Homo sapiens: one gene and its partner. The protein of the gene in region 2 purifies or fractionates together with the protein of the main gene of each other region. This does not show direct contact. Each region holds a gene or a part of one and is shown on either strand. Other genes may lie near its edges.

Region 1 (8,291 bases), on a different chromosome or scaffold from region 2:
GGGCATGGTCGCACACACCAGTGGTCTAACCTGTGGGAGGATCGCTTGAGCCCAGGAGATTGAGGCTGCAGTGAGCTGTGATCGCATCACTGCACTCCAGCCTGGGCAACAGAGTGAGACCCTGTATCTAAAAATTAAAATAAAAAAATTCAGGCCGGGCACGGTGGGCTCACGCCTGTAATCCCAGCACTTTGGGAGGCCGAGGTGGGCGGATCACCTGAGGTCAGGAGTTTGAGACCAGCCTGACCAACATGGAGAAACCCCGTGTCTACTAAAAATACAAAAAAAAATTAGCCAGGTGTGGTGGCTTATGCCTGTAATCCCAGCTACTCGGGATTACTGAGGCGGGAGAATTGCTTGAACCTGGGAGGCAGAGGTTGCGGTGAGCCGAGATTGCACTATTGCATTCCAGCCTGGGCAACAAGAGCAAAACTCTGTCTCAAAAAAAAAAAAAAAAAATTCAGACAGCCACCAGCGGCTACACTGTCCTGGGCAGCTCAGCATTGGGGCATTCCCTGTGAGAATCTTGCAACAGGGGGAAGACAGCGACCAAACTTACAAATGTGATTAGAACTGGCAAGACCCCTTAGGGGCAGCGAACTTGTTCTTTTTTTTTTTTTTTTTTTTTTTTTTTGAGATGGAGCCTCTGTCGCCCAGGCTGGAGTGCAGTGGCGTGATCTCGGCTCACCGCAAGCTCCACCTCCCGGGTTCACACCATTCTCCTGCCTCAGCCTCCCCAGTAGCTGGGACTACAGGTGCCCGCCACCACACCCGGCTAATTTTTTGTGTATTTTTTAGTAGAGACGGGGTTTCACCGTGTTAGCCAGGATGGTCTGGATCTCCTGACCTCGTGATCCGCCCGCCTTAGCATCCCAAAGTGCTGGGGTTACAGGCGTGAGCCACTGTGCCCAGCTGAACTTATTCTTAAAGCAAGTGCCCCGGACCTCCAGTGGGCCTGTTCTGGTGCCTTCTACCAGGGTCAGCTCAGACAGTTCAGCGTCAAAGCCAAAGACTAGAGACCAGGTGATTACGGTTTCTTTGGAGACAGAGTCTCACCCTGTCACTCAGACTGGAGTGCACTGGCGCAATCTTGGCTCATGGCAACCTCCGCCTCCTGGGTTCAAGTGATTCTCCTGCCTCGGCCTCCTTAGTAGCTGGGATTACAGTCACCCACCAAAGTACCTGGCTAATTTTTTTTTTTTTTTTGGTATTTTTAGTGGAGATGGGGTTTCACCGTGTTGGCCAGGCTGGTCTTGAGCTCCTGGCCTCAAGTGACCCACCTAACTCTGCCTCCCAAAGTGTTGGTGTTACAGGTGTGAGCCACCGCGCCCGGCCAAGACCAGGTGATTAAAATTTGGTTGTAGGCAGGTGCAGTTGCTTATGCCCGTGGTCCCAGCTACTCCGGAAAATGAGCGGGGAGGATCGCTTGAGCCCAAGAATTCAAGGCTGCAGTGAGTCATGATTGCAGCCCTGCACGCCAGCCTGGGTGACAGAGCAAGACTTGGTCTTTTTTTTTTTTTTTTTTTTTTGAGACAGAGTCTCGCTCTTTCGCCCAGGTTGGAGTGCAGTGGCGCGATCTCGGCTCACTGCAAGCTCCATCTCCTGGGTTCACGCCATTCTCCTGCCTCAGCCTCCCGAGTAGCTGGGACTACAGGCGCCCGCCATCACGCCCGCCTAATTTTTGTATTTTTTGGTAGAGACGGGGTTTCACTGTGTTAGCCAGGAGGGTCTCGATCTCCTGACCTCATGATCCACCCGCCTCGGCCTCCCAAAGTGCTTGGATTACAGGCGTGAGCCACCACGCCCGGCCAAGACTTGGTCTCTTAAAAAATGGAGGAAAGAAAACACAGTCTCTTTTTTTCCCCTGAGATAGCTTATCCTAAGGACAAGGCTCTGAGGGGTAAGGAGACAGGGTTTGGTTTTAGTTTTGACTCTCTTGGTCCTGTGTCCCTGGGACTGGTGAGTCCACCAGGGACTGCACTCCTCCATCTCCCAGGCCGTCCGTGGCCAGGGCCAGTTGGCGGAGGGGAGGGAGTTGATGGAGCTGGTGGGTGGGGCTCCCAGGGCCATGCTCCCACCCAGCCCACCCCCTGCTGGAGCACTGCTGGGCCCCAGCGACCCTGCCCCATACTTGGCAGGCCCTGACTGCAGAGATCGTGAAGACCATCCGGGACATCATTGCCTTGAACCCTCTCTACAGGTGGGCCTCTGTGCGGGCAGCTGGCCAGGCGGGGGCATCTCTGCAGCTCTTTCTGCAGCTGGGTGGGTAGGGGGCTTCCTCAGCGTCCTCCTGGGAGGAAACCTTGCCTGCCCCAAGGAGTGGCCTGTGTGGAGGAGCCCGTTGCCCACTGGGGCATGGGGCAGGTGGGAGGCCCGGGGCCGACTCAGCAGGCCCAGTTTCTTTGTCCCCTTCTGCTGAGGCCGGAAGCTGTTGGTGGCATTGGCTGGGGGAGTGGGGAGCAGACTGCTGAGGTGAGGTCACTGCACGGCTCCCGTGGTGGCTGCACGTGAGGATGCTGCATGCCTTTCCAGCCCAGGACGGGTGGGCCCTGAACTCTGGAGAACAAGCAGCAGAGCTGGCTCCCAGCGAGCACCCCTAGACCGTGCCCATAGCTACAGGGGACAGGGACCCTGAGGACCGGGTCCCCGTTTGGGGGCTGCACTGCAGCAGAGCGTGAGGCCCTGGCCACCGAGGCAGCTCCCTTTGTCCCCCAGGGAGTCAGTGCTGCAGATGATGCAGGCTGGCCAGCGGGTGGTGGACAACCCCATCTACCTGAGCGACATGGGCGCCGCGCTCACCGGGGCCGAGTCCCATGAGCTGCAGGACGTCCTGGAAGAGACCAATGTGAGTGCTCGTCACCTCCACAGCCCCCCACGCCTGGCTGCACCCCACCTCCACTATGCTCCGCCCACGCCCGGCTGCCCCCGTTCCTCCTCAGCTCCCCCATGCCTGGCTGCCCTTGTCCCTCCACCGTGCACCATCCACACCCAGCTGTGTGTCCCTGGCTCTGTTTTTGAGATGATTTCCCGCTGCGTGTCTTGGTCCACATCCATCCGCCTTTCGGTGGCTTCATAGCCTTCGGTTGGGAGTCACCGTTGCGGGTTCAGTGGGATCCTCTGGGCCGTGTACCCGGGGCGTTGCCAGTCTTTTGCTGTTGTGAGCAGCACTCCTGAGCGCGTCCCCATGCACGCAGCTGGAGGGCCTGTGAAGTATCCGTAGGATGCGTTTCCAGCACGGGATTTGTTGGGGCAGAGGGCACACATGCCTCTGTGCTGGGTACAGCATGGCCAGGTCCTCCCGGCAGCATCTCTCAGGGTGCGCATTTTCCCCCAACCTCGGCCCTACACACACAGATGCCGACTTCTGCTCATCCTTTCTGTCCTCCCTGTCTCGGCAGATTCCTAAGCGGCTGTACAAGGCCCTCTCCCTGCTGAAGAAGGAATTTGAACTGAGCAAGCTGCAGCAGCGCCTGGGGCGGGAGGTGAGCCCGCGGCTGAGGCGCAGCCACTCTTGGGGGCCTTCCCCTCGGGCCACGTGACATCAGTCAGGCTCTGGAGCACACGGAGGGACCGGTGGCATCGGCCAGGGCAAGCCAAGAAGGCCTGTCTGGGTTTTGAGGGCTTCGTGCCATCATCTGCTCTGTCGTCCTGGGCTGTGGAACTCTCCGCGTTGAACAGGGAAGCTTAAAGCTGGTCCCAGTGTAATGAGCCCAGGGTGGAGCAGTCTCAGGACCGTCCAACATTAAGGGAAGAATTCCTTTGCCTTTGTAATCTTGGGGACAGTGTTGGAAATTGGAAAGCAGCCTGGGAAAAGTGAAGATGCTGTTTCTTAAGACCCAGCCATTGAGGCTCGCTGTCATGATTTTCGGCAGATCACAGCCTGCCTGATGGCCGGTCACCTCACGGTCGTAGCATTTTTCAGAATTTTTTACTTTAAGACAGGGTCTCAGTCGGCCACCTAGGCTGGAGTGCAATGGCGCAATCTCAGCTCACTACAGCCTCCACCTCCAGGGCTCAAGTGATCCTCCCACCTCAGCCTCCCGAGTAGCTGGGATTACAGGCGTGCAATACCACACCGGCTAATTTTTGTATTTTAGTAGAGACAGGGTTTCACCATGTTGGCCAGGCTGGTCTTGAACTCCTGGCCTCAAGTGATCCGCCCGCTTCAGCCTCCCAAAGTGCTAGGATTACAGGCGTGAGCCACCGCGCCTGGCCCCATCTCTACAAAAAATTTTAAAATTAGAGCCAGGTGTGGCAGGTGCCTGTGGTCCCAGTTACTCAGGAGGCTAAGGCAGGAGGATCGCTTGAGCCCAGGAGGTGGAGGCTACGGTGAGCTATGATGGTGCCTTTGCACTCCAGCCTGGGTAACACAGGTAGACCCTGTCTCAAAAACAAAAGAAGATGGAAGGAACCAAAGGCTTCGTGCTCTGGGTTTCGTTTCTTTTCTCTCTGAGTCCTGGGGGAGCAGAGGGTCCCCCTTCGTCTGGGGACGCACCCACCCACCCAGCTTCCCGGAGCCAGGGCCTGATGGCAGCACCTCACCCCACAGGTGGAGGAGAAGATCAAGCAGACCCACCGTAAGTACCTGCTGCAGGAGCAGCTAAAGATCATCAAGAAGGAGCTGGGCCTGGAGAAGGACGACAAGGATGCCATCGAGGAGAAGTTCCGGGAGCGCCTGAAGGAGCTCGTGGTCCCCAAGCACGTCATGGATGTTGTGGACGAGGAGCTGAGCAAGCTGGGCCTGCTGGACAACCACTCCTCGGAGTTCAAGTGAGTGCCAGGCCCGGGGCGGCCCAGCCCTCAGGTGACCCCTCCTCAGCCCCCATCTTAGGCAGGCCAGGGGACCCAGCGGGGAGCCCCGTGGCACCTTCTTGGTGTGGCAGGTGCGGGCTGGGAGGCATCCAGCGAGTATCAGCCCTGTTCTGGGCAGGACACATCATCACCATCTCCATTCTACAAGGAAATCGAGGCTCGGGGCTGTTGAGCTGGTGGCCAGGGCCTGTGAATTGGCAGGTGGTGCCACGGATTTGAGCCCAGGGACGCCTGGCTCTAAGCCAGGGCTGCTTTTTTTTTTTTTTTTTTTTGAAATGGAGTCTCGCTCAGTTGTCCAGACTGGAGTGCAGTGGCACAATCTTGGCTCACTGCAACTTCCGCTTTGCGGGTTCAAGCAATTCTCCTGCTTCAGTCCCCCAAGTATCTGGGACTATAGGCATGCACCACCACGCCTGGTTAATTTTTTGTATTTTTAGGAGACATGGGGTTTCACCATGTTGTTCAGGCTGGTCTCGAACTCCTGACCTCAAATGATCCGGCTGCCTTGACCTGCCAAAGTGCTAGGATTACAGGCGCGAGCCACCATGCCTGGCTTTTTTTTTTTTTTAAGACAGAGTCTTGCTCTGTTGTCCAGGCTGGAGTACAGTGGTGCAATGTTGGTTCACTGCAACCTCCACCTCCCAGGTTGAAACGATTCTACTGCCTCAACTTCCTGAGTAGCTGGGATTACAGGCATGTGCCACCACACCCAGCTAATTTTTAGTATTTTTAGTAGAGATGGGGTTTTGCCATGTTGGCCAGGTTGGTCTCAAACTCCTGACCTCAAGGGATCCGCCCACCTTGCCCTCCCAAAGTGCTGGGATTACAGGCATGAGCCACCACGCCTGGCCTAAGCCAGGCCTTCTCGCCAGGACCAGGAGTCCCCATGGCTGTCTTTGCAAGGCTACCCCTGGCTTCTGTTGCCCCTTCGAGAGTCAGCCAGGAAGTGACCATGCCTTCCCGCAGCACTGGCCTTGCCCGGGGGCCACTGTCCTGAGCATGCCATGAGTCAGGGTGGCCGCCCCAGGTTTGAGGGCCTCAGGTACCTCTGAGATCCTTTCAGCCATGCCCATGTCCAGCCAGGACAGAACCCACCTGGCCACTTCCCATGCAGCATGCTCTGTTTTCAGCCCAGGAACCAGTTGTCACGCCAGGGCAGCTTCTAGGCAGAAGTCCCCGGGGCAGGGCTGGGCAGGCCGTAGGACAGCGCTTAGAGGGAAGGCATGAGTTTCTTTCCTGGCTGCTGGCCCAGGACCCCGCCTCAGATTTGAATGTCACGGTCGCCGGAGTCTCTCCCCCAGGGCCCTGAGAGGCACTGGTTGCGCGCGAAGGCTGTGGCTTCCCCTCCCAGCACGCCCCGATTTCGGTGAGTGGCCTGTGAGCTCCCATGGCTGCTCCGACGGTGCCACAACTTAGTGCCTTACACAATGCCGAGCCCTGAGATCCCGCTGTGGGCCGGGCCCGTCCCTCCCAGAGGCTCCAGAGGAGAATCCGTTTCCTGCCTTTCCCAGTATCTGGAGGCGCCCGCATCCCTCGGCTCGGGGCCCCTTCCTCCTTCACAGCCACAGCGCAGCCTCTTCCAGTCAGTCTCTCACCTCCCACCGCCTGTCGTGAGGACCTGGTGAGGAACCTGGGCCCCCTGGGTCACCCAGAATGCTCTCCTGTCTCGGGGACCTTCACTCAGCCCCATCTGCAGTTCCCTGCTGCCATGTGAGAGGCCTGTGCCGCCGCCTCCTGTGGGGGGAGAACGTAGATGTTTTCGGGGTTCTTCTGTCTCCCAGCGAGTGCCTCAGCTGCCCTTGGGCTGGTGGAAGTACCTGCTCAGACCGGGCCTTGTCCTGCAGAAGCAGATAGCTCCTTCCCCCAGGAGCTGAGGGGGTCTGTAAGGCGGGTTCTGTCCTCAGGTCCTGGGAAGTCACGGGGGACAAGCCCTCAGTACCTGCGTGTCACCAAGATGCCTGCAGCAGGCTGCCAGCTACCTCTCCCACCCAGAATGCTCTCCGCAAAGTGTCACTGCCTGTGTCACTTCCACAGTGACTTCATGTGTCTCTAAACTCCAGCATCCGTGTGGCCCAGCTGGCCTGTCCCGGTGCGTCTCGTATGCCCGTTGGGTGGCAGTGCGCCCTGACGGTGTCTGCTCGTGGGGCCGCCTGGCCCTTCCTCGGAAGCCGTCCTCCTCTTCATCCTCTTCCCCAATCCTGCCGTGTGCTCTTGCAGCCCTCACTGACTTGCTCCTGGCCCATAGTGGCCGCTGCTCACTGCTGCACGGCTCCCAACTTGGGGACCAATATGGAGTTGCCCTCCCAACCTTCAGCGTCACTCTCCCGGCAGGGGACCTGGCCTCCATTTCCCCACCTGCCCTGGGTCAGGCCTTGTCCCATTTTCTAAGCCTCGTCCCCTCTGTGGTTCTGCTCACTCAGCCCTGGGCAGAAGCCAGTGCCGTCTTGGCTCTCCTGATGAGTCAGCAGTGGACCTCCGGCCATCTCCTCCTTCCTGCACTGGGTGCTTTGGACAGGGCAGTTTGTAAATTTTTTTTTTTTTTTTTTTTTGAGATGGAGTCTCACTCTGTTGCCCAGGCTGGAGTGCAGTGGCACGATCTCGGCTCACTGCAAGCTCCGCCTCTCGGGTTCATGCCATTCTCCTGCCTCAGCCTCCCGAGTAGCTGGAACTACAGGTGTCCGCTGCCACGCCCAGCTAATTTTTTTTTTTTTTTTTATTGATCATTCTTGGGTGTTTCTCGCAGAGGGGGATTTGGCAGGGTCATAGGACAATAGTGGAGGGAGGGTCAGCAGATAAACAAGTGAACAAGGGTCTCTGGTTTTCCTAGGCAGAGGACCCTGCGGCCTTCCGCAGTGTTTGTGTCCCTGGGTACTTGAGATTAGGGAGTGGTGATGACTCTTAACCAGCATGCTGCCTTCAAGCATCTGTTTAACAAAGCACATCTTGCACCGCCCTTAATCCATTTAACCCTGAGTGGACACAGCACATGTTTCAGAGAGCACAGGGTTGGGGGTAAGGTCACCGATCAACAGGATCCCAAGGCAGAAGAATTTTTCTTAGTACAGAACAAAATGAAAAGTCTCTCATGTCTACTTCTTTCTACACAGACACGGCAACCATCCGATTTCTCAATCCTTTCCCCCTTTTCTATTCCACAAAACTGCCATTGTCATCATGGCCCGTTCTCAATGAGCTGTTGGGTACACCTCCCAGATGGGGCGGCTGGCCGGGCGGGGGGCTGACCCCCACTCCTCCCTCCCAGAGGGGGCGGCTGGCCAGGCAGAGGGGCTCCTCACTTCCCAGTAGGGGCGGCCGGGCAGAGGCGCCCCTCACCTCCCGGACGGGGCGGCTGGCCGGGCGGGGGGCTGACCCCCCCACCTCCCTCCCGGACGGGGCGGCTGGCTGGGCGGGGGGCTGACGCCTCCACCTCCCTCCCGGATGGGGCAGCTGGCCTGGTGGGGGGCTGACCCCCCCCCCAA
Region 2 (8,190 bases):
ATGGCCGCCTGCCTTGTACCAGCCCCTCCAACCCTCTCCCACCCCTCATTCCAACTGCCAGCAAATCAGGGGTGCTCTGCCCTGGCAAAGCAAGTACAGGCACAAGACGTGTGGGCCAGGACATAGGCGAGGGACGGACCCTTGGACACACGCAGGGCCCACCAGGAGGGTGTTGCGTGGGCTTGGCCTGCACCTGTGCCACCCCAGGAGGCCAGTAGCCTCCTGCACGGGAAGAGAACTGGGAGGCAGGTGGAGGGCTGGGCTTTTCCGGGCCCTCATTCAACCTCGAGGGGCATGGTGCAGGTGGTCACAGGCGGTTCAGCGCCTCAGGGTCTATGTGATCTTTCAAGGAGTGAGAACTACCTTCGTCTTAAAAACTGCCAAAGGGCCGGGCGCGGTGGCTCACGCCTGTCATCCCAGCACTTTGGGAGGCTGAGGCGGGCGGATCACGAGGTCAGGAGATCAAGACCATCCTGGCCAACATGGTGAAACCCTGTCTCTATTAAAAATGCAAAAAGTTATCCAGGCATTGGTGGCGGGCCCTGTAGTCCCAGCTGCTCGGGAGGCTGAGGCAGGAGAATGGCGTGAACCCAGGAGGCGGAGCTTGCAGTGAGCCAAGATCGCCCCACTGCACTCCAGCCTGGGCAACAGAGCGAGACTCCGTCTCAAAAGAAAAAAAAAAGCCGAGCAACTTCCAGCCTCAGCTTCACCTGCCCCTTCCCCAGACGTAGCTGTTCAGAGGCAGGTGTGGTTTCTTCCCAGCCTTTCCCCTTTGCATGTAGCGTGTGTGTATGTAGGTGCACACACACACACGTTCCGTAGAGGGGTTACTTTTATTTTTTGTTTGGGGGGATATCTAGTGAGGCAGCCTGGCGTTTGCTTGCCTTGTCTTTAAAGTGTGGAGTCCTGGCCGGGCGTGGTGGCTTAAGCCTGTCATCCCAGCACTTTGGGAGGCCGAGGTGGGCAGATCACTTGAGGTCAGGAGTTCGAGACCAGCCTGACCAACATAAAGAAACCTCGTCCCTACTAAAAATACAAAATTAGCCAGGTGTGGTGGCAGATGCCTGTAATCCCAGCTACTCCGGAAGCTGAGACAGGAGAATCGCTTGAACCTGGGAGGCAGAGGTTGCGGTAAGCCAAGATTGCACCATTGCATTCCAGCCTGGGTAATAAGAGCGAAACTCTGTCTCAAAAAATAAATAAATAAAATGAAATGAAGTGTGGAGTCCTCTCTGGAGTGGGCGTCGGGCACTTACTAGCCGGCCTCTGCCGGCTGCTGGCTGACCCAGTTTCTGCTCGACAGACGTGCTGGCCACCAGGTATCGAGTTCGCAGCTGCACACCAGCAGGGAGGGTGAGGCCTGGGCCCCTGGCAACCCCATCCCTGAGCTTCCCCTGTCCCAGGGCTCCCCAGCCCACAGACTGCAGTGCCCCGTGGTGTGGCCTTCAGTTTCCTGGGGTCCAGCTCTGGGCCCCTCACAGCTGGCCTCCATGCCTCAGGCCCCAGCCATTCTCCCCCTCCTGCAGCCCTGGCCCCAGCCACCTCCAGAGCTCCCGGCTCTCACCCAGGGACATAGTGAGGCTCCGGCGTGAAGAGATCGTGTTTCTGAGTAGTTGTCATTTTGCTTTCACTCTGGCCTTGCTGGCTCCAGTCCCTCCCGGCATCCAGCTCCCTTCCCTGAGGGGAGTCCTGTCACCGGGCAACCATTGTGAGGGGCCAGCATTGTGGGCACCTCCTGGGCCAGGCCACCTCGCTAACCCTGTGAGGGCCCACATTGCACAGGTGAGACACTGAGGCCCAGACAGGTGCCAGGCAGGGGAGGAGTTGCGGTGAGGCAGGTGGTCCGGGAGGAAGTCCCATTAACTTCAGAGCTCAGAAAACAGGACTGTCCCTCCAGAAAGGGCCTGGGCTCTTGCTGCCCCCAGGAGGCCACCAGCCCCAGTCTCAGGGTGAGGCTAAGGGAGTCCCCAGGCCCCCTCCTCTGACAGGAGGCCTTGCAGCTGCAGAGCCTTGGCTCGAGTCAGGGGCTTCCCGGCCTGCAGGGCTGTGCGAACTCTCCCTCCAGCCCTTCATGTGGCGCAGGGTGTTATGTTTACATTTTAAGCAAATCCTGAATTTTGTTCTTTTTTTGTACAGGAAGGACTTCCTAACCATAAAAATGAAGGAAGGCGGCCAGGCACGGTGGCTCACACCTGTAATCCCAGCACTTTGGGAGGCCGAGGCAGGCAGATCATGTCAGGAGTTCGAGACCAGCCTGACTGACATAGTCAAATCCCGTCTCTACTAAAAATACAAAAATTAGCCAGGTGCGGTGGCGTGCGCCTGTAGTCCCAGCTACTCGGGAGGCTGAGGCAGGAGAATGGCGTGAACCCAGGAGGTGGAGATTGCAATGAGCTGAGATCGTGCCACTGCACTCCAGCCTGGGCCACAGAGTGAGACTCTGTCTCAAAAAAAAAAAAAAAAAAAGAAAGAAAGAAGAAAGGCTGGGCACTGTGGCTCATGCCTATAATTGCGGTGCTTTCGGAGGCCGAGGCAGGATGAGGTGTGCAGATTGCTTGAGCCTAGGAGTTCAGGCCAGCTGGGCAACATGGGGAAACCCCACCTCTACAAAAAAGAAAGAAAAATTAGCCAGGCATGGTGAATGTGCCTGTGATCCCAGTTACTTGGGAGGCTGAGGTGGGAGGATGGCCAGAGCCTAGGAGGTTGAGGCTGTAGTGAGCTGAGATCGCACCGCTGCACTTCAGCCTGGGCAACAGAACCAGACCATTTCTCACAAACAAACAAAAAAACAACTAAAAGGCAAACTAAAAAACTGGAAAAAAGTTTGCAGTAAGTGCTATGAACAAATCTGGTATCAGCATAAAAAGCTCTCACAAAACAAAGATATAAACAACACCTCCATGGAAAATGCAGACTAATATGGTTTTTTTTTTTGTATTTTTAGTAGAGACAGGGTTTCACCATGTTAGCCAGGATGGTCTCGAACTCCTGACCTCGTGATCCGCCCACCTCGGCCTCCCAAAGTGCTGGGATTACAGGCGTGAGCCACTGTGCCCGGCCAATATGACCTTTTTAAGAAAAAAAGACCGCAGTCCGTAAATATAAGGGCATAAAGCAGGACCATAATCACATACATGCTGACTGTGTGTTGAGAGCAGTTTCTGAGGCTTACTGCCGGCAGGGTCACAGTGAGAAGGGCCTCTAATTTGGGTGGTGCCTTCTGGAAACCAAGTTGGTATGGATCACGTCCATACAAGACACTGCAAACTGGGACCATTGCTTCCACTCCTAAGAAGCTGTCTGGCATTCTGGTAGACGCTGGTTTTCCTCCACCGTTCCTGGCTGGTAATTCCCATATTCCCATAGCCCTTGGTAGGGCCTTTTGTTAGAATGTTGGGTGGGTGATGCTTGGGGGGTGCGGGCGGGGGACTTTTACCTCCTGCCCTCCTTTCACCTGCCCCAAGGCAGGACGCTAACATTCTCACCTTTCTGACTGTGGGTCTTAAGACCCTTCCAGGAGAGGTCCCACCTAAGCCCTGGGGGCAGGAATGCTGACATCAGGAAGCTTCCGTAAAATCCCAAGAGGACTGAGGCTCAGGGAACTTCTGGACAGGGGAACACCTGGAGGTTCCCAGAGGGCGGCAACTAGCGAGGACATGGAAGCGCCAGCCCCTCCCCGTGCCTCTCTCTACGCTTCTTCATTGGTATCCTTTGCAATCAATACCCTTTACAATAAACCAGTAAACGTCATAACTTCCCTAGTTCTATGAGTGGCTCCAGCAAATTAACCCAAAGACGGTGTCACAGGAACCCCAAATTGAAGCTAGTTGGTCAGAAGTTCCAGGGGCCCAGGCTTGCGACTGGTGTGTGTCTGGAGGCCCTGCCCCTATCTGTGTCTGGAGGCCTTCTTGGGATGGAGCTCTCACCCTGTGGGATCTGACACCATCTCCAGGTAAATGGTGAAGGAAATGAATTAGAGGACACCCAGCTTGGTGTGTGGGGAACAACCCCCCTCCCTCAACATTTGGGCAGAGGCCTCCTTCTGTGACGGCTGTGGTGGTGTGGGCGCAGAGCCGGACACTGAGAGAGCATTTCCCCCACGCACCTTCTCAAGGAGAGGATGGATGTCCAGCAGCACCATTCACGGTGGCAACGTTTATTACAGGGCAGGGAGGACCTGGAGGAGCCTATCTGTCCAATGACAAGGGCTTCATTAGCAAAGTACACTCTGTTCCACTGGCAGCCAGTCAACTCTGAACCCGGCACAACCTGGGCAGGGGCCCCGGAGCACAGGCGTGAACCCCTCGCCCAGATAAAACCCGTGTTTCCTCAAGCACGTGTCCATCTGTCTGCCTGGCAGGCCCAGTGCTGAAGGGGAGGCATCCAGAGAGGGCGGAGGAGGGCCCCAAGTTGGCCCTGTTCACAGGCCCTGCCCTGGTGGATTCTGGGCCAAGGTCAGGGCTGGGACCAACTGGTGGTCAGCTCCAGAGACCACACAGTGAGGGCCCTGGTGCCCACACGGGCTCTTGCTCACACAGGCTGGCTGTTCCTTTGCAGCTCTGGCAGCCCGGCCATCTGTGACACCCTCTAGCCTCTGTGCCCCCAGGTGAGAGGTAGGCCCTCACACCCCAGCCCTGGCTGGGCTCCAAGGCCCGGCCTGCCTCTGGTGTCAGACCCATCTGATGTGGATTTGCTTTTCCCTTAAGTGGAAATCCAGATGGGGTGGCGGCTCCTCCTCTTCCTCCAGGGAGCCTTCCTGGGCCCCTCCCTCCTACCCCCAGGGGGTCCTGGCTGGCCAGACACAGCTGGGCATCTCCTAGGGCTTGGTGGATGCCGGTGGGTCCTGTTCCCTCCACCCCCTCTGCTGAGGCCTCAGTCCTCCCAGACCTGCTAGAGTGGACCCCAGACTCCCAGGAGACCCCAGGGTGCAGGAGAGGGGAGAAGGCTGGAAAGGTTGCGGGGAGGGAGAGGGCTGGGCCAGGAGTCACCGGGGCAGGCTGGGGGTCCTGGCCCAGGCGGACCCGCTGATCATCTAGTTAGTGGGGGAGGGGCCCACCAGGGGTCGGGGCCCGGGGCAGCCCCTCCAGGGCCAGACAATGTGTCTTCCTCAGGAGTCCCAGCAACAGAGGGGCCTACCAGTGAGGTCACAGAGCTCCGTGGTGCCGTTGGGGAAGAGAGCCAGGAGACTCTGATGATGAATTCTGACCAGAAGGCAGTGAAATTCCTGGCAAATTTTTACATCAATGGAGGCAAACACTGGACCCATGGTCACCTGAGGCAGACACAACCAGAGCCCACCCAGTAACTGGCGGAGAGGGGGAGAAGGGGCGGGCCAGCTGGGAGTGGCCAGGGGGCTGAGGGACAGTGTGGGGGGCAGGTTGCTGGGCAGGCGGCTGGGGGACTGAGGGACAGTGTGGGGACAGGCTGTGGGGCAGGCGGCTGGGAGCGGCCAGGGGCTGAGGGACAGTAGAGGGGACAGGCGGCTGGGAGCGGCCAGGGGCTGAGGGACAGTGTGGGGACAGGCTGTGGGGCACGTGGCTGGGAGCAGCCGGGGGCTGAGGGACAATAGAGGGGACAGGCTGTGGGGCATGTGGCTGGGAGCGGCCGGGGGCTGAGACAGTGGCTGCTGGTCTCCCTTGCAGGCCCAAGGCATCTGTGCTGTTGTTGGGCCCGGAGCCGGGGATGGCCTGGGATGAGACACAGCCCCCAAAGATGAAGGAGATCCCAGTTGGCCTCAGGTTACAGACGGGCACCCCCCAGGAGTCCCTGCCCACCTACACCCAGACCCTGAGGGAACTATGTGAGTGAGGGTCCTGGCCACCCCACCCCCAAGCTGGTCTTTGGGGGGCTGTGGGAGGGGCCCGCTGAAAGGAGCCCAGGCCCAGAGCTTGCTTCCTGTGGCCAGTGCTGGAGCAACGCCCCCTGATCACAGCTGACCTGGAAGTCCCCAGCCCCACCAGGTACCAGGTGCCGAGCCCGTCCGTACGAGAGTCCTCCCCACACCCCCACTACAGCATCGGCTGCAAGCACCAGGGCCGAGGTGTGTGTCCCCTCCCTGAGGCCCAACCACCGGGCCTGTCCCTCACCCTGGGAATGGGGGCCTTTGCCTCTGTGCTGAAACCCCCACGGCCTGAGGGCCCCTCCACCCTTCCCTGCGTTCACCTCTAGGCTCAGCACCTGTAAGGAGGCCTGGAGAGAGGAGGGCTAGGGCTGGGGCATGGGTGGACATTGTGAAGACAAGGGTTCAGGGGCCGAGGGTGGGAACCGGGAGACAGGTTCGAGTGGGGACTGTCACCTGGGTGGGGCTCCCAGCCTTCTCTCTCTCCATCCTCCAACTACAGAGGGCGGTGGCCGCAGGGCATGGCAGACTTTGTGGTTCCAGAGCGAAAGCCCCTTCACGCAGAAAGCTGACTTCGACCAAGAGCAAAAGGTTGGGGGCTGGGCAGGAAGGGGGCGGGGAGTCCACGCAGGCAGGGGGCTGGGGGTTCCAGTGGGGCCAAAGGGGGGCTGGCTGAGGGTCCGTGGGGAGCACCCTGCCCTGCAGCCCGTCTCCTACCCCCTCGCAGTGGCCCTCGCCAGCCCACTACCAGCTGCTCAGCCGGCCCGCCTTCCCCGCCTTCAGCTTCAGAGGCTGCCACTCCGCTTCCAAGACACCTGAAGGCCACACCCACCTAGGGCTGCCTGGGGCTAGGGGGCTGGGCCTCAGGGTGCAGCCCCAGTCCCTGCTTCAGGCCTCTTTGCAGGCACCTGGCAAGAGATGCCCTGGCCCCAACACCTACAATATCCTTCCTGGGAGCCGCCTGCAGAGCCCCCGCTCGCCGGCCTTCTCGATGAGCCGCTCCCCTGCGTTCACCTCCTGGCTCAGCACCTGTAAGGAGGCCTGGAGAGAAGAGGGCTAGGGATGGGGCATGGGTGGGCAATGTGAGGACAAGGGTTCAGGGGCCGGGGGTGGGAACTGGGAGCCAGGTTTGAGTTGGGGCTGCTACCTGGGTGGGGCTCCCAGCCTTCTCTTTCGGCAGCCCGAACCCCTGGCCCAGCCGCCTACCACGTGGAGGACTGCAACTCACGCTTCCCTTCGGCGCCTGGCGTGGTCATCCAGGGTGTACGCAGACCCAAGCGCCACGACACAGGCCCCTTCTGCACGCTCTAGAGCCAGCTGGGCACAACCTGCTTGGCCCGGCCACCGAGTGGAACCATGGCCTCCCCCGGGGCTTTCCCAGGCCTCCCCTGGGACTTGGGGCCCCAGCCTGGCCTTCTGACCCTCTGGGCACCCCGATGCACCCTTCTGGCTGGCCAACCCTTCTATGGGCTGTGGACAAGGCTGGCCCAGCCTGGATCCCCCATCTGCCCATCTCCCCGCTACACTGAGATGCTGTTGGTTTTCCCGAGCTCTGTGGTGTGCAGTTGTCTGTCCTTCACCCGGGGGCGGTCCTAGAGATATGGCTGCCGCTGGGTCATTTCCGGCTTTCCCTGTTGAGGGGTCTCCATTCAGCTGCCCCTGAAAGGTGCTCTCTTCTCTAGGGTGGCAGCCTGTGACTGACCCTGAGCTCTAGCCTGGAGCGAGATGGGAGGTGGGCTCTGTGGGACACCCCCACCCAGCCGTGTCACTCAGGGGCCTGGTCTAGCTGCTGTCCACCTGAGGGTCAGCTGCTTGCCGAGCCAGGGAACTGGGAAGGAGGCGTCAAATGCCCTGAGCCGCCACCTCCAGGTGGGGTCGGCCTGGCCAGACCTCAGGAAGGGCCCAGGGATCTGCTCACCAGGGCCCAGCCCCACTTCCCCTAGGCCTTGAGCTGAAGACCTGGCTGGGCTTAGTCACCTGTGCCCTGAACACTCTGGCCCAGGGCCCTGCAGACTCCACTCCCGGGGCCTTCACCTGCTGGGACCCTGCACTGCCCCTGCCTGCAACTTCGCCTGGCTGGGGCCTCCCTTGTCATCACTGGCCTGCCCTCCTACCCAGGGTCGGGCCCCAAGGCTGCCACCTTGCAGGAGCCTTACCTGCGGTGCCGTCACCCGCACCTCCCCAGGTCCTCCCCAGACCCAGGACCCAGACCAGGCCCAGAGCTCAACCCCTTCAAAAAGGCTCTGGGCAGCTGCTTCTGTGGCCTCAGCACCACCCCCTTTCTCAGAGAGGAATCCCAGGCTCAGGATTGTGTGTGTGCTGTGACCCTTGTCCTCCTCTGCCACCGAACC

The links.
Region 1: the proteins of STPG3 (region 2) and LONP1 purify together in Homo sapiens (affinity purification with mass spectrometry; 3 studies listed by BioGRID and IntAct, with this or other methods). This does not show direct contact.

What each region holds. Positions count from the first base shown.
Region 1 is NC_000019.10:5,702,251-5,710,541, reverse strand, and holds part of LONP1 (lon protease homolog, mitochondrial isoform 1 precursor), read left to right. Parts: intron 1-2,138; coding exon 2,139-2,200; intron 2,201-2,715; coding exon 2,716-2,845; intron 2,846-3,398; coding exon 3,399-3,482; intron 3,483-4,549; coding exon 4,550-4,770; intron 4,771-6,323; coding exon of another isoform or gene 6,324-6,426; exon of another isoform or gene 6,427-6,811; intron 6,812-8,291. UniProt on the Homo sapiens protein: ATP-dependent serine protease that mediates the selective degradation of misfolded, unassembled or oxidatively damaged polypeptides as well as certain short-lived regulatory proteins in the mitochondrial matrix.
Region 2 is NC_000009.12:137,246,096-137,254,285, forward strand, and holds STPG3 (protein STPG3), read left to right. Parts: upstream 1-5,190; 5' UTR 5,191-5,191; coding exon 5,192-5,301; exon of another isoform or gene 5,302-5,642; coding exon 5,643-5,800; exon of another isoform or gene 5,801-5,905; coding exon 5,906-6,040; exon of another isoform or gene 6,041-6,341; coding exon 6,342-6,430; exon of another isoform or gene 6,431-6,566; coding exon 6,567-6,870; exon of another isoform or gene 6,871-7,003; coding exon of another isoform or gene 7,004-7,019; coding exon 7,020-7,150; coding exon of another isoform or gene 7,151-7,368; 3' UTR 7,369-7,388; downstream 7,389-8,190. Other genes in the region: CIMIP2A (ciliary microtubule inner protein 2A), read right to left, coding at 1,565-1,689, 4,106-4,141.